3 linked regions of the Homo sapiens genome follow. The protein of the gene in region 3 purifies or fractionates together with the protein of the main gene of each other region. This does not show direct contact. Each region holds a gene or a part of one and is shown on either strand. Other genes may lie near its edges.

The links. Proteins that work in one complex are often made in the same cells at the same time.
Region 1: the proteins of ZNF284 (region 3) and NKTR purify together in Homo sapiens (affinity purification with mass spectrometry; one large-scale study listed by BioGRID and IntAct). This does not show direct contact.
Region 2: the proteins of ZNF284 (region 3) and GINS2 purify together in Homo sapiens (affinity purification with mass spectrometry; one large-scale study listed by BioGRID and IntAct). This does not show direct contact.

What each region holds. Positions count from the first base shown.
Region 1 is NC_000003.12:42,645,686-42,649,235, reverse strand, and holds the end of NKTR (NK-tumor recognition protein), read right to left. Parts: intron 3,349-3,550; coding exon 3,261-3,348; 3' UTR 501-3,260; downstream 1-500. UniProt on the Homo sapiens protein: PPIase that catalyzes the cis-trans isomerization of proline imidic peptide bonds in oligopeptides and may therefore assist protein folding. Component of a putative tumor-recognition complex involved in the function of NK cells.
Region 2 is NC_000016.10:85,682,455-85,685,954, forward strand, and holds part of GINS2 (DNA replication complex GINS protein PSF2), read right to left. Parts: intron 1-3,500. UniProt on the Homo sapiens protein: Required for correct functioning of the GINS complex, a complex that plays an essential role in the initiation of DNA replication, and progression of DNA replication forks.
Region 3 is NC_000019.10:44,081,352-44,086,355, reverse strand, and holds part of ZNF284 (zinc finger protein 284), read right to left. Parts: intron 4,344-5,004; coding exon 4,251-4,343; intron 643-4,250; coding exon 1-642. UniProt on the Homo sapiens protein: May be involved in transcriptional regulation.

The DNA of each region.
Region 1 (3,550 bases), on a different chromosome or scaffold from region 3:
GTATTCACTAAGAAAATAGACATTCCTTTCAGTTCTGAGGAGACAAAAGTTAATTGTACTTCCCCTGCAAATTCTTATGTGTATACTAAAAATATCACCATGAATGTTTTCTCTGGGAGTGAGTGACATGTGCTGCACTGCCTAGTGCGCTGCCGTTAGGGAGGGAAATGTAGAGGCTGTAGGTAAATGGACTGTCTCTAGGTAGAAACTCACACATGGGATGTGACATATTCCTCCCTCAGCAAAGACATCTTTATGCAGGTCATTTTAACTAGATGACAACAAAGTGTAGAGGAAATCTGGATTTTCCAGGGGAGGAAGACCAAACATCATTAATGCTTACCTGTGTAGGTTAAAATCTCTGCCTGACATTCTCTCTAGCTCCACCTCCTACACCCACCACTAACACTCAGCTAGGAGAAGAAAAGGAGCTGCCAAAGGAGATGAGGTGTCTTCACTGGCTGGGTCAGCAGAAAGATAAAACATGAACAGACTCAGACTTAGACTAAGTATATATTTTAATTTCTACAAGGTCCCCTTTCAAGTTTTAGGGAAATTTAACTGAAGTGTATACAAATTAGACATTGCTAATATGTACAAAAGTATTTTATACAGTTTTTGAACGATACTAGCTATTTGCAATAAACAGGATGTTACAAAAACAGTCCAATAATGCATTTCCTATTAAGAAGCACAATACACAACATAATTCAATTTTATTAAAAAATAACTTCAAAATGTAGAACAATCCCCTTTAGGAAGAAAAGCTATTTCTGTAGTTCACTCTGTCAGTAAACACACAAGTTGAACGCTGCAGCAGAGGGCTGTCCTTTTCCATGGAGAAAAGAAATGAGGCTTCTAGGGCCTATCTTTTCTGGGTAAAAATTCCACCTACAGCTGAGATGGGCAGTTATTGCCTGTGGTAGGCAGAATTTGAAAATGCCCCTCCCACTTTCAATGAGCTAATCTCCAGAACCCGTGAATATGATGAGATGAGACAGTACTCCTGCAATTATGTTCTATCGCACAATCAACCTTAAAATATATCTGTGGGCTTGAGCTAATCATATGCCCCTAAAACAGGAGGACGGGAGAGAGATATGAAGCATGAGAAAGAGCAGGAAGGCTGGTTTGAAGCTGGAGGGGACCACATAAGAAGGAATGCAGGCAGCCTTGAGGTGAGAGAGGGGCCTCCAGCTGAGAGCCAGCAAAGAACTGAATTCCGCCAACAACCTGAATGAACTTAGAAGCAGATTCTTCCCCAGAGCCTCCATGAAGGAATGTTGTCCTGCCAACCCTTATTTCAGCCTTTAAGACCCTGAGCAGAGAATCCAGCCACACTGTGCCAGACTCATGAGCTACAGAACTGCTATGGGTATTGTTTTTTAAACTGCTAAATTTGGGGTAATTTGTCACACAGCAATAGAAAACTAATACACTGCCCAAGGGTAACTTTTCTTAACCTAATTACATTTGGCAGTTTCTGCTTGGGTTCTGAATGCATTTTTTTCCTGCTGACTAGTAGTAATATTCTCCTTTGCAGGCAACCTTTGGAAACCTTTAATATAAATCATACTGTTTTGTATTCAGTATCCAGTATTGTTTGTTTGGCCTAAGTCCTGTTTTCTAATGTACTTTCTGTCTATTGACCTGGCAAACAACTGACCACCTTACCCTGTTTTCATACCTTCTTTGGGTGATAGTTTTAATACATTCAAGGGCACCCTCCCTCCACCAAGGGTTGTCAGCTCCCTCCAACTGAGGGCTCTTTTCCACTTCCCAAATACACCAGACAAGGCCTGTGGTAGGGTGGTGCTGAGCTCTACATCAGGCAACCAATATGAATTTCTTCTGCATAACTGGATTAAACTGGCACTAAGGTGATTAAGTACACTTGGGGAACAAATTCAAAGTAAAGATTAAAAAAAAAAACCACACACACACACACACACACACACACACACACACTAGTTTTTACAGGTCCAATTATTTTTGGAGGAACCACCCAAAGCCATGAAAATATGTAATTTATGCTATACCCTCTATCCCTCTTCCCCTGTCTCTTGCACCTGGGTCAGGTCACGCAAGGCTTTGAGTCAGCTGCAGGTCACAGTGGAAATAGGAAAAACATGCTGGTTACAACAGTTCAGCTGCTGTTGTGGTAATATCCTGTACTTGAAAGACTTGAAAGGAAAGCCCTGCAAAATGTCTCCAGGATGGTGGCAGTTAGATTTTTGATGTTACTTTTGAAGTCCATTCTTCACTCTTCCAGAGGCACACACACACAGTAGACTTGAGTGGCCAATATCTCTTACTGCCAATCCTGCCTGCTCCAGGGGACCCCAACCCACATCTGTACTTGAGAGAAGCCCCCCAAATAGTCAAAGTGAAGACAGCTCAGAATAAACCATTTTTGGTGCCAGTGATTTTGTCTGAATTTCATTTTTATGGTATTTTAATATATGATATATAAGAGTAATGCTTAAAGACGCACCAAAAATTACCAAGCACCAAAGCATGAAGTAGAATTGTTTTTATAACCTAAACTTCTGATCGGTATTGATTAAAAAGAACATAAAATAGTAAGTCCTCAGAGACAGTGCAGGTATTTATAGTTAAGGCTGATTGATTCTTCCTAACCTTGCCCACAAGCCTGAAGTAATACAGACTGTGTGGGATGTATGATGACCACTTTCCTAATCCTGTGAAGTATCAAAGAAGTTAGGAATGAATTAAGAACCCCAGAGCCACTGCCTTATACTCCTGGTTACCAACAGTATCAATTCTGGGTGGTTTGTTTTTAGAGCACATATGTACAAGACTCTATGTAATCAGTATATAAATATTTGGCCGCCTTTAACAGTTCTCCTTCACAGTTCTATGCTTGGCAGCATATATGCTAAAACTGGAAAAACAGGCAAAAAGAATCTGTATTCTAAGGGATACGTAAGATAGAGTGAAATAGACTTAAAATAATATTGCAAATTATACATAGATAAATTTCACGATTTCTTGATTCAAGAAAATGAAATTCATTTCCATAGTTGGCTACTGTAAAATGTGGCATAAAAATATTTTTAGGAGACATATCTGTATTTTAAATTCTTCTCCCCACATGTAAATGAACCAGTAACAATTAAGAAGTGTCTATTTTTGAAATTCACCTCTGATATTGAAATAGAACAACAGACTGTCATTACATTTCTTAAGCTAAGTTGCCAGATATTTACAAATAAGATATAATTTGTATCCGGACGTTTTCAACTGTATCTGCTGCTCTCACTGGGGCTCCGGTGATGAGAGTAACTTCGGTCACTTTCACTGTCAGAGCCATAAGATCTACAACTCCTGTAATAACAAAACAAAATATATAAAAATCTTGTAACTGTAAAATCTTTGAATTCCTCTTATAGCTTGTTTTTTATATGAGTGGCTTGAAAACATCAATAGTGTTTTCAAGCCACTCATATAACTGATGCACTATTGATGCAGCATAACACAGAGGTAGGGTACTGACTATGGCAACACCATGGACTTTTCTTTTTCTTTT
Region 2 (3,500 bases), on a different chromosome or scaffold from region 3:
AAGCCACCCCAGCCTGGGCGTGATACAATATCCTAGGGGCTAAGCCACCCCAGCCTGGGCGTGATACAATATCCTAGGGGGGTTAAGCCACCCTGGCCTGGGCGCGATACAATATCCTAGGGGTTAAGCCACCCCAGCCTGGGCACGATACAATATCCTAGAGGGCTAAGCCACCCCAGCCGGGAGGAGGCATGACATCCTAGAGGGGTGAAAGCCCAGCGTCTAGAATCAAACAGCTGTATCCAATTCCACCAGCATCAGCACTGTTCTCACACATGCTCCAGCTCCCTCAGCCCTCCCCCTCTACAGAGAAACCTGTCCTGGGAGCAGACTGTGTACTATAGCTAAGGGACAAGCACGGAGCACAGCTACGCTGCAGGGTCCCATTGTAAACGGCCAACTACCCATCCCCAGGGCCCTTGGTGCCGTCCTGCAATCCTGGCCCAATTCCTTGGTCTACTCACCCTCTCTTCACTGCCGCCAGCACCGCCTCAACCCACCACCCACCTCTCACCTGACACCCAGCTGAGTGTGACCCACACACCACCCCATCCCCCAAACTCCCTGTGTAGCTCCTACCCACTCGAGGACCAGCCTTCCAGGTGTCCTGGACCCTCCTCTCACCTGCACAGTAAGGCACTCCAGCAGCTCTCATGCTCTTAAATGATCACTGTCCCCTCCTTGCTTGATCCTCCCAAACACACTAATAGATATAGCCTTAAAAAGAAGGCCCTCCGTGAACACCCCTCTGAGCTTGCTTATGAACTCACTAGGCTCCCCTTTTTGTCTCCTGGCAATTCCTCCTGACCTCTCGACACTGGGACAAAGAGCTCAGCTCCCAACCCCTTTCTTCACTACCTAAACTCATATCCACACCACCTCGTCCAAATGCTACCCACATGCTCAGAAAGACCTCCAAATTTATACCCCCATCAGCCCCTGAGCTCTAACTCCTAACTCAATAACCTCATTGCTGCTGTAACTTCCTCCTGGATATCCAGAAAGCACAACAGTTCAAACCCCCAACTCCTGATACCCACTGCAGCCCACAGCCTGCTCCTGCAGCCTCCCACCTCAGGAGACAGCAACTCCCTCTCCTGGGCCTCCAGCCAAGAGCCTGGCTGTCAGCTTTCACTCTTCTCCCTCACACCCCATGGCCAGTCCTTCAGCCAATCCTGCTGCTGCTTCCTTCAAAACACACCTAGACACCTACCACATCTCCCACCTCCATCAGCCAGAGGCCACTCTCAGTGCTTGCCTGGATTCATTCCCTGCTCCTATTGCACCAACCTTCTCTACACAGCAGAGTGATCCTTTCATTAACATCTGAATCAGCTTATGAAACACCTCTGGTCCAACTTTCTAGCAAATAAAAAAGCTACAGTCAAAATTTTTGGCCAGGACATGGAACAATGGGAACTCATATTTCTTGTAGGATAAAGGCTCAGCTGCTTTGAAGGACCAGGTGGCCGTTTCTTACAAAGTTAAGCATTATCCCTGAGATCCAGCAAGTCCATCATTCTAGGTATTTATTTACCCAAGGGAAAAAGAAACATATCCATGAAAAGACGTGGACAAGAATATTCACAAAAGCCTTATTAAGAATAGCCAAAAATGAGCCAGGCACAGTGGCTCACACTTGTAATCCCAGCACTTTGGGAGACCGAGGTGGAAGCCCCGGAGTTCAAAACCAGTCTGAGCAACAAAGTGAAACCCTGTCTCTATAAAAATTAGCTGAATGTGATGGTATACACCTGTATTCCCAGTTACTCAAGAAGCAGAAGTGGGAGGATCGCTTGAGCCCAGGAGGTGGAGGTTGCAGTGAGCCATGATCACGCCACTGCACTCCAGCCTGGACATCAGAGCGAGAGACTGTCTCAAAAGCCAAAAATGAGCTGGGCACATTGATGCACACCTGTAGTCCCAGCTACTAGGGAGGCTGAGATGGGAGGATCACTCGAGCCCAGGAGTTGGAGGCTGCAATTCACTATGATCACACCTTTGAATAACCACTGCAATTCAGCCTGGGCAACAGAGAAATCCCTGTCTCTAAATTTTTTGTTAAAGCCAAAAAGGGGAATCCCAAATATCTACCAACAGAAGAATCGGTGAACAAATATGTAGTATGGAGAGTACCCAGCAATGAAAGAACATAGCCAGGTGGTGTGAATATGAGTTTCAGTAGTGGAGAAAGGGGTTGGGAGCTGAGCTCTGTGTCCCGGTGTTGAGAACGTAAACAGGTAAATCTCAAAAACAGTGTTGGATAAGAGAAATCAGAAACAAAAAATGACATACTAGATTATTCCATTTACATGAAGTCCCAGAACAGGCAGAACTGGATTTGTTTTCCTGAGATGGAGTCTCGCTGTATCTCCCAGGCTGGAGTACAGTGGCGCGATCTCAGCTCACTGCAACTTCCACCTCCTGGATTCAAGCAATTCTCCCTGCCTCAGCCTCCCAAGTAGCTGGGATTACAGGCGCCCACCAAACACCCAGCTAATTTTTGTATTTTTTAGTAGAGACAGGGTTTCACCATGTTGGCCAGGCTGGTCTTGAACTCCTGACCTCAGGTGATCCACCCATCTCGGCCTCCCAAAGTGCTGGGATTACAGGCATGAGCCACCGCGCCTGGCCCAGAACAGGCAGAACTTATCTGTGGTGCAGAAGTCAGGAGGCAGCAGGCTGTTGGGTAGGGTCTATAGACAGGTTAATGGTGCCTCACTGTTCCCACAATATGGCTCCAGCCCAGGTAAAAAGTTCAAGGGGAACTCTCCACACCTTCTGACTCTAGCCTGCGATAAAACAGGCCCTTGCCATGTTATCACCTGGGGTCTAGATGGGACAAAAGTGCCAGACACTGATTTTAAACAAGGGGCCTGGAGAGGATGCTGCATTAATGGAGCCAGGCCTGGTGAGCCTCTCCTCTACAAAAGCCTTCCGGCCAGGGGCAACAGCTCACATCTGTAATCCCAGCACTCTGAGAGGATCACTGGAGCCCAGAAGTTTGACACCAGCCTGGGCAACATAGCAAGACCCCCATCTCCACTAAAAAAAAAAAATCAAAAAATTAGTCAGGCATGATGGTGCACACCTGTAGTCTCAGCTACTCCGGAAGCTGAAGCAGGAGGATGACTTGAGGCTGGGAAGTCAAGGCTGCAGTGAGCTATGATTGCATCACTATAGCCCAGCCTGGGTGACAGAGCAAGACCCTTTCTCAAAAAAAAAAAAAAAAAAAAACCGTCTCAAAGCAGAGGAACTGGGGTTTCCCATTATGTTTCAGGACTACCTGAGTCACTTGCCACTTTAGGACAGGGAGCAAGGGGAAGACACTAAGCAGTCTGTCTTAAACGGACCCCAGAGTGGCTGGCTCAATGAGCTCTTGCTTCTAGGAGGTAGGTACCCCCAATAAGTCCCAGTAAGGAGGGGGCAGTCAAAATCACTCACGGCTGAGACCCCATCTCCATAAAAAGAAAAAAAAAAAATCACTCAGGGTCTTTTCA
Region 3 (5,004 bases):
CACATATATAACATTTGAATGGCTTCTCCCCAGTATGGATTCTTTGATGTTCCCGAAGCTGGGAATTGTGAATGAAGGCCTTCCCACATTCCTCACAAATATGAGGTTTTTCTCCTGTGTGTAATTTGCAATGAACATACATTCCTGATCTACGGCTGAAACTTTTCCCACACTGCTCACATTTGAATGGTTTCTCTCCAGTGTGGATTCTCTGATGAGTTTGCAGTTGTGAGTTCTGACTAAATGCCTTACTACACACATCACACTTATAGCGTTTCTCTCCCATGTGAACTTTCTGATGAAGACAAAGAGCTGAGCTATAACAGAATCTCTTCCTGTACTCATTACATGTATGGGATATCTTTCCTGAGTGTAATTGTTGATGAAGATCAAGGATGGAGACATCACTGAAGAATTTTTTACACTTCCCATGCTCAGAAGGTGTCTCTCCTATGTGAATTATAGATAGTCCTGCGTCAACCTGGGAGGGGACATCACCTTGTGTGGAGAACTGAGAGCTACTTATGGAGTCTTGAGGTCTAGTTAACTCACTTGCAGTTTGTTCCCAGATTTGCTGGCAAGACCACTCTTCATGTGGTCCTGTTTCTGGAACAGACTCCAACTCAGTTTGGATCTTGCCTCCTATAAGGACACAGAATTAAGAGATGTGGGTAAGTGAAACCTTTGTTCAGTGTTTTCAGGATTTCACTTAGGACATGGCCTGAAACTTTACTGAATACAAGGAAGGTACAGTTTGTGTTTTCCAAGTGCACCACGGTCTCTCGTTGTCACGAAACCAATTTTGAATGACATAATGTCTCATACGTGGTAGAAATGAAAGACTTAATTTAAAATATTAATATAATACAGTTAATGTGTTACTATTTCTACCAATTTCCTAGTTAGTCTAAAATCTTGCATGGTATATTATGTAACTACTAAATTATATATGTGATGAATCAGAAGGAACGTTAAGGGTAGGAGGACTTCAAGATGGCTGACTAAAGACACCCAGAGCTTGCGTCCTCCACAAAGAGCCAAAATAATGAGTAGTGCTCACTTCAGCAGCACATATGGTAAAACTGGAATGATCAGCCCCTGCACAAGGCCGATATGCAAATTCATGAAGTGTTCTATATATTTTATTACTAAAAAATTTAAAAAGCAAATAGATACTCATACATCAAATAGCATCTAAGAGGGATCACTGGAATTCAGCAGAGAAGTGACAGGAAACACCCGAAGCACAAAAGGAGAGCGAAGGGAGGTAGCCCTTCTGGCCGTGATCACCTGAAAGCCGGGAAAGGCTCCTAGTGCTGGGAAAGGGTAAGTGAGAGAGCCCTAGTGGTTTACATTTCCGCTGTGCACTCCAGCAATCAGCCATGAGAGAGGCCCTCGACCCCTGTGGGCCCTGAGACTAGCACAGGGGGCTACCTGGAGTCCATGCAATGGCACTCAGAGAGGGTACTCATGATGGGACCCACACACTTCCTGAGACTCAAGCAGCTATGGCACAGCGCTATTTTGAGAGCTGCACCCCCACCAGACTGCATCTTGCCCTGGGGCCCAACAGCCTTTGCATCTCCAAATCCCTGAAGCCCCATGGACATGCCCCCACATCCACCCAGAGGGTTACAATAATGCCTGTTAGACCCAGCAGTATGGCAGAGTCCCCAGCAATCTAGGCCACATAGTGTCCCATACTCTAGGGAATGGGCCGTGAAGGACACCAGGGAGGCTGCCCCCAGTACAGTACAAAGGGACCCAAAGTGTGTGCACTCACCAGAGCTTGAAAGCTGCCTGTCTGGGGCTGCTGCCTCTAACGGCAATGCTACCTCACCCCCAGCAGCAGGGCCACTGTACACTCATATGTGTTCTCATTCTGAGGAAAGTTTCTCTGCACACTCTGCCACTGCCACCCAAGCACACCTCCTAAAGGCATGGGGAGTCCCTTGCACTGCCCACCACAACCTGTGCCCGTGCACAGGACAAGCCCACTTCACTTGGTACCGCCCATCTCAGTGCCAGAGCATGACACAGAGGGACCTGGGGATTGCTCTACCCTGTGTTGCCTCAGGCACATGTGTGCACAAACAGGAGACCTGACAAAGACCCAGCTTGTGTGCTGCCAGTGCTGGAGCATGCCATCTGGGGACCTAGGGATCACGCCGCCTCTTCCACCACAGCCTACATCTGCCTGCACCACTGAAAGGCCTGAGGACAGGCTCACCTGGCCTGGCGTCATTCCTCCACTACCTAAGCATACCACCTGGGGCTGTTGAGATCACCCTGCCATGTTGGTTGCCCCAGGCATGAGCATGTACCATGCAGGGAGCTTTACAACAGACCCAGAACCCTGCCGCAGGTGCCCAAGCATGCTGTCTGGAGACCTAAGGATTTCCCTGCCCTGATCACCACCACTGGCATCTGTATACTCCTCCTAGTGACCTGAGGACAGGTCCTACAAGCCTGCTGCCACCATCACCGCTGACACTCACCTGCACACACCATGTGGGGGCCTCAGGACTGGCCCACCCAGCCCATCACCACTACCTCTAACACCGGTACACATAGCCTTAAAACCTGAGGGTTATCCTGCCACCACTATTGGGTACTATGCTCAGTACCTGGGTGACAGGATCATTTGCAATGCAAACCTCAGCATCACACAATATACCCAGGTAACAAACCTGCACATGTACCCCCTGAATCTTAAAATAAAAATTGAACAGCTAAAAGTCCTCCTCTTAAGACATTCCATTCCAGTGGGTAGAGATGACAGCTAAATAGAAATATATAAGACACAGTATAAGACAACACCAGAAGGGTAAAGATAGGATGGTATTCCATTCCCTCTCTCTCTCTCTCTCTCTCTCTCTCTATATATATATATATATATATATATTTCTTTATTTATTTTTTGAGACAGAGTCTCATTCTGTCACCCAGGCTAGAGTGTAGTGGCACAATCCCAGCTCACTACAACCTCTGGCTCCTGGGTTCAAGTGATTCTCACGCCTCAGCCACCCGAGTAGCTGGGATTACAGGACTGTGCTACCACACCCAGCTAATTTTTATATTTTTAGTAGAGTCAGGTTTTGCCATGCTGGCCAGGCTGGTCTCAAACTCCTGGCCTCATGCTATCTGCCTGCCTCAGCCTCCCAAAGTGCTGGGATTACAGGCATGAGCCACCACGCCCGGCTGGTATTTTAAATAGAGTGGTCAGAGAAGGCCTTTCTCATGATATTAAAACTGAACAGAGACCAGAATAAAGGAAGGGTCAGAAGGTCTTGAGGTGAAAGAGTATTCCAATCAGAAAGAAGAGCATATATAAACTCTAAGACAGAAGCTTCTGTAGTAGACAGAACAATGGTCCTTGAAAGATGTCCACATCCAATTCCCAGGACCTATGAACCTGTTATGTTATATAGCAAGAGATATTAAGGCTGCAGATGCAATTAAGGTCACTAGTCAGCTAAAGAGAGAGTAAGAAGGTCATTCTAGATTATGCAGGAGTGACCAATCCAATCGCAAGGGACCCAAAATGTGGAAAACAGAGGCTTAAGAAGGGTGGCAGATGACTATGGAAGAATGGTTAGAGATGCAATGTAGCTGCTTTTGAAGATGGAGGAAGGGAGACAAGAGCCAAGGAGTGTGGACAGTGCCTAGGGATTGGTAAATTAAAGTGAAGGCTTCTCCCCAAGAACATCTAGACAGGAACAAAGCCCTAGGGACACCCTGATTTTTGTCCAGTGAGATGTGTCAGACTTCAGATCTGAAGAACAGAAAGATAATTGTTTGTTGTTTAATCTGCTAAGTGTGTGGTCACTGGGTGACAGCAACAGGCAATACAGTGTCCTTGGCAGGATGGAGAAACAGCAGGGAGTACAACGTGGCTGGAAAATGGAGATGTAGTCAGAGAGGCAGTAGGGGATGAAGAGCAGATCAAGGGTCTCTAAAAGGCACTTAAAGCAGTTGTAACATTAACACAAATAAGAAGCCATAAAGGCTTTTAAGCTGAGGAATGGCAATCTGACTTACATTCCCTAAGGATCACTTTGGCTGCTATGAGGAAAACAGATGTCAGGGTGGGAAGAGGGGGTGGGGGAGCAGGACAACCAGCAGGAAGGAGGTAAGAATCCAGGAAACAGGTTTGGCCATTTATACCAGGGCAATGGAGTTGGGCAATGGACAGAAGTAAAACAGATGGAAGGGTCACGTACAAGGATGCATCGTTGCTTGGTTCTTACCTGAATTCCCTTCTCTTTGGGTTGCTGTCTCCATGATCCAAAACTTTTCTTCTCTTTGGAAGTGAAAAGTATCTCGGTGGGAAAGTTGATGCCCTGTGAACAAAGTCACATGCTTAATCCCAATACATCTTAGGTAAAATTTACTAGAAATTTAGGTTCTCACTGCACACTCGAACTTGAACACTGATATGGTTTGGCGGTGTCCCCAAATCTCATCTTGAATTGTAGTTCCCATAATCCCCACATGTCATAAGAGGGAGCTGGTGGGAGGTAATTAAATCATGGGGGCAGTTTCCTCCATGCTGTTCTCGTGATAGTGGATGAGTTCTCACGAGATCTGATGGTTTTATTTTATTTATGTTTTTTGTTTTTGTTTTTGTTTTTGTTTTTTTTTGAGACGGAGTCTCGCTCTGTCGCCCAGGCTGGAGTGCAGTGATGCGATCTCGGCTCACTGCAAGCTCCGCCTCCCAGGTTCACGCCATTTACCCGCCTCAGCCTCCTGAGTAGCTGGGACTACAGACGCCCGCCACCACGCCCGGCAATTTTTTTTGTATTTTTAGTAGAGACGGGGTTTCACCGTGTTAGCCAGAATGGTCTCCATCTCCCAACCTCGTGATCTGCCCTCCTTGGCCTCCCAAAGTGCTGGGATTACAGGCATGAGCCACCGCGCCCGGCCCTATCTGATGGTTTTATAAGGGGCCTTTTCCCCTTTGCTCGGCACTTCTTCCTGCTGCAATATGAAAAAGGTGCCTTT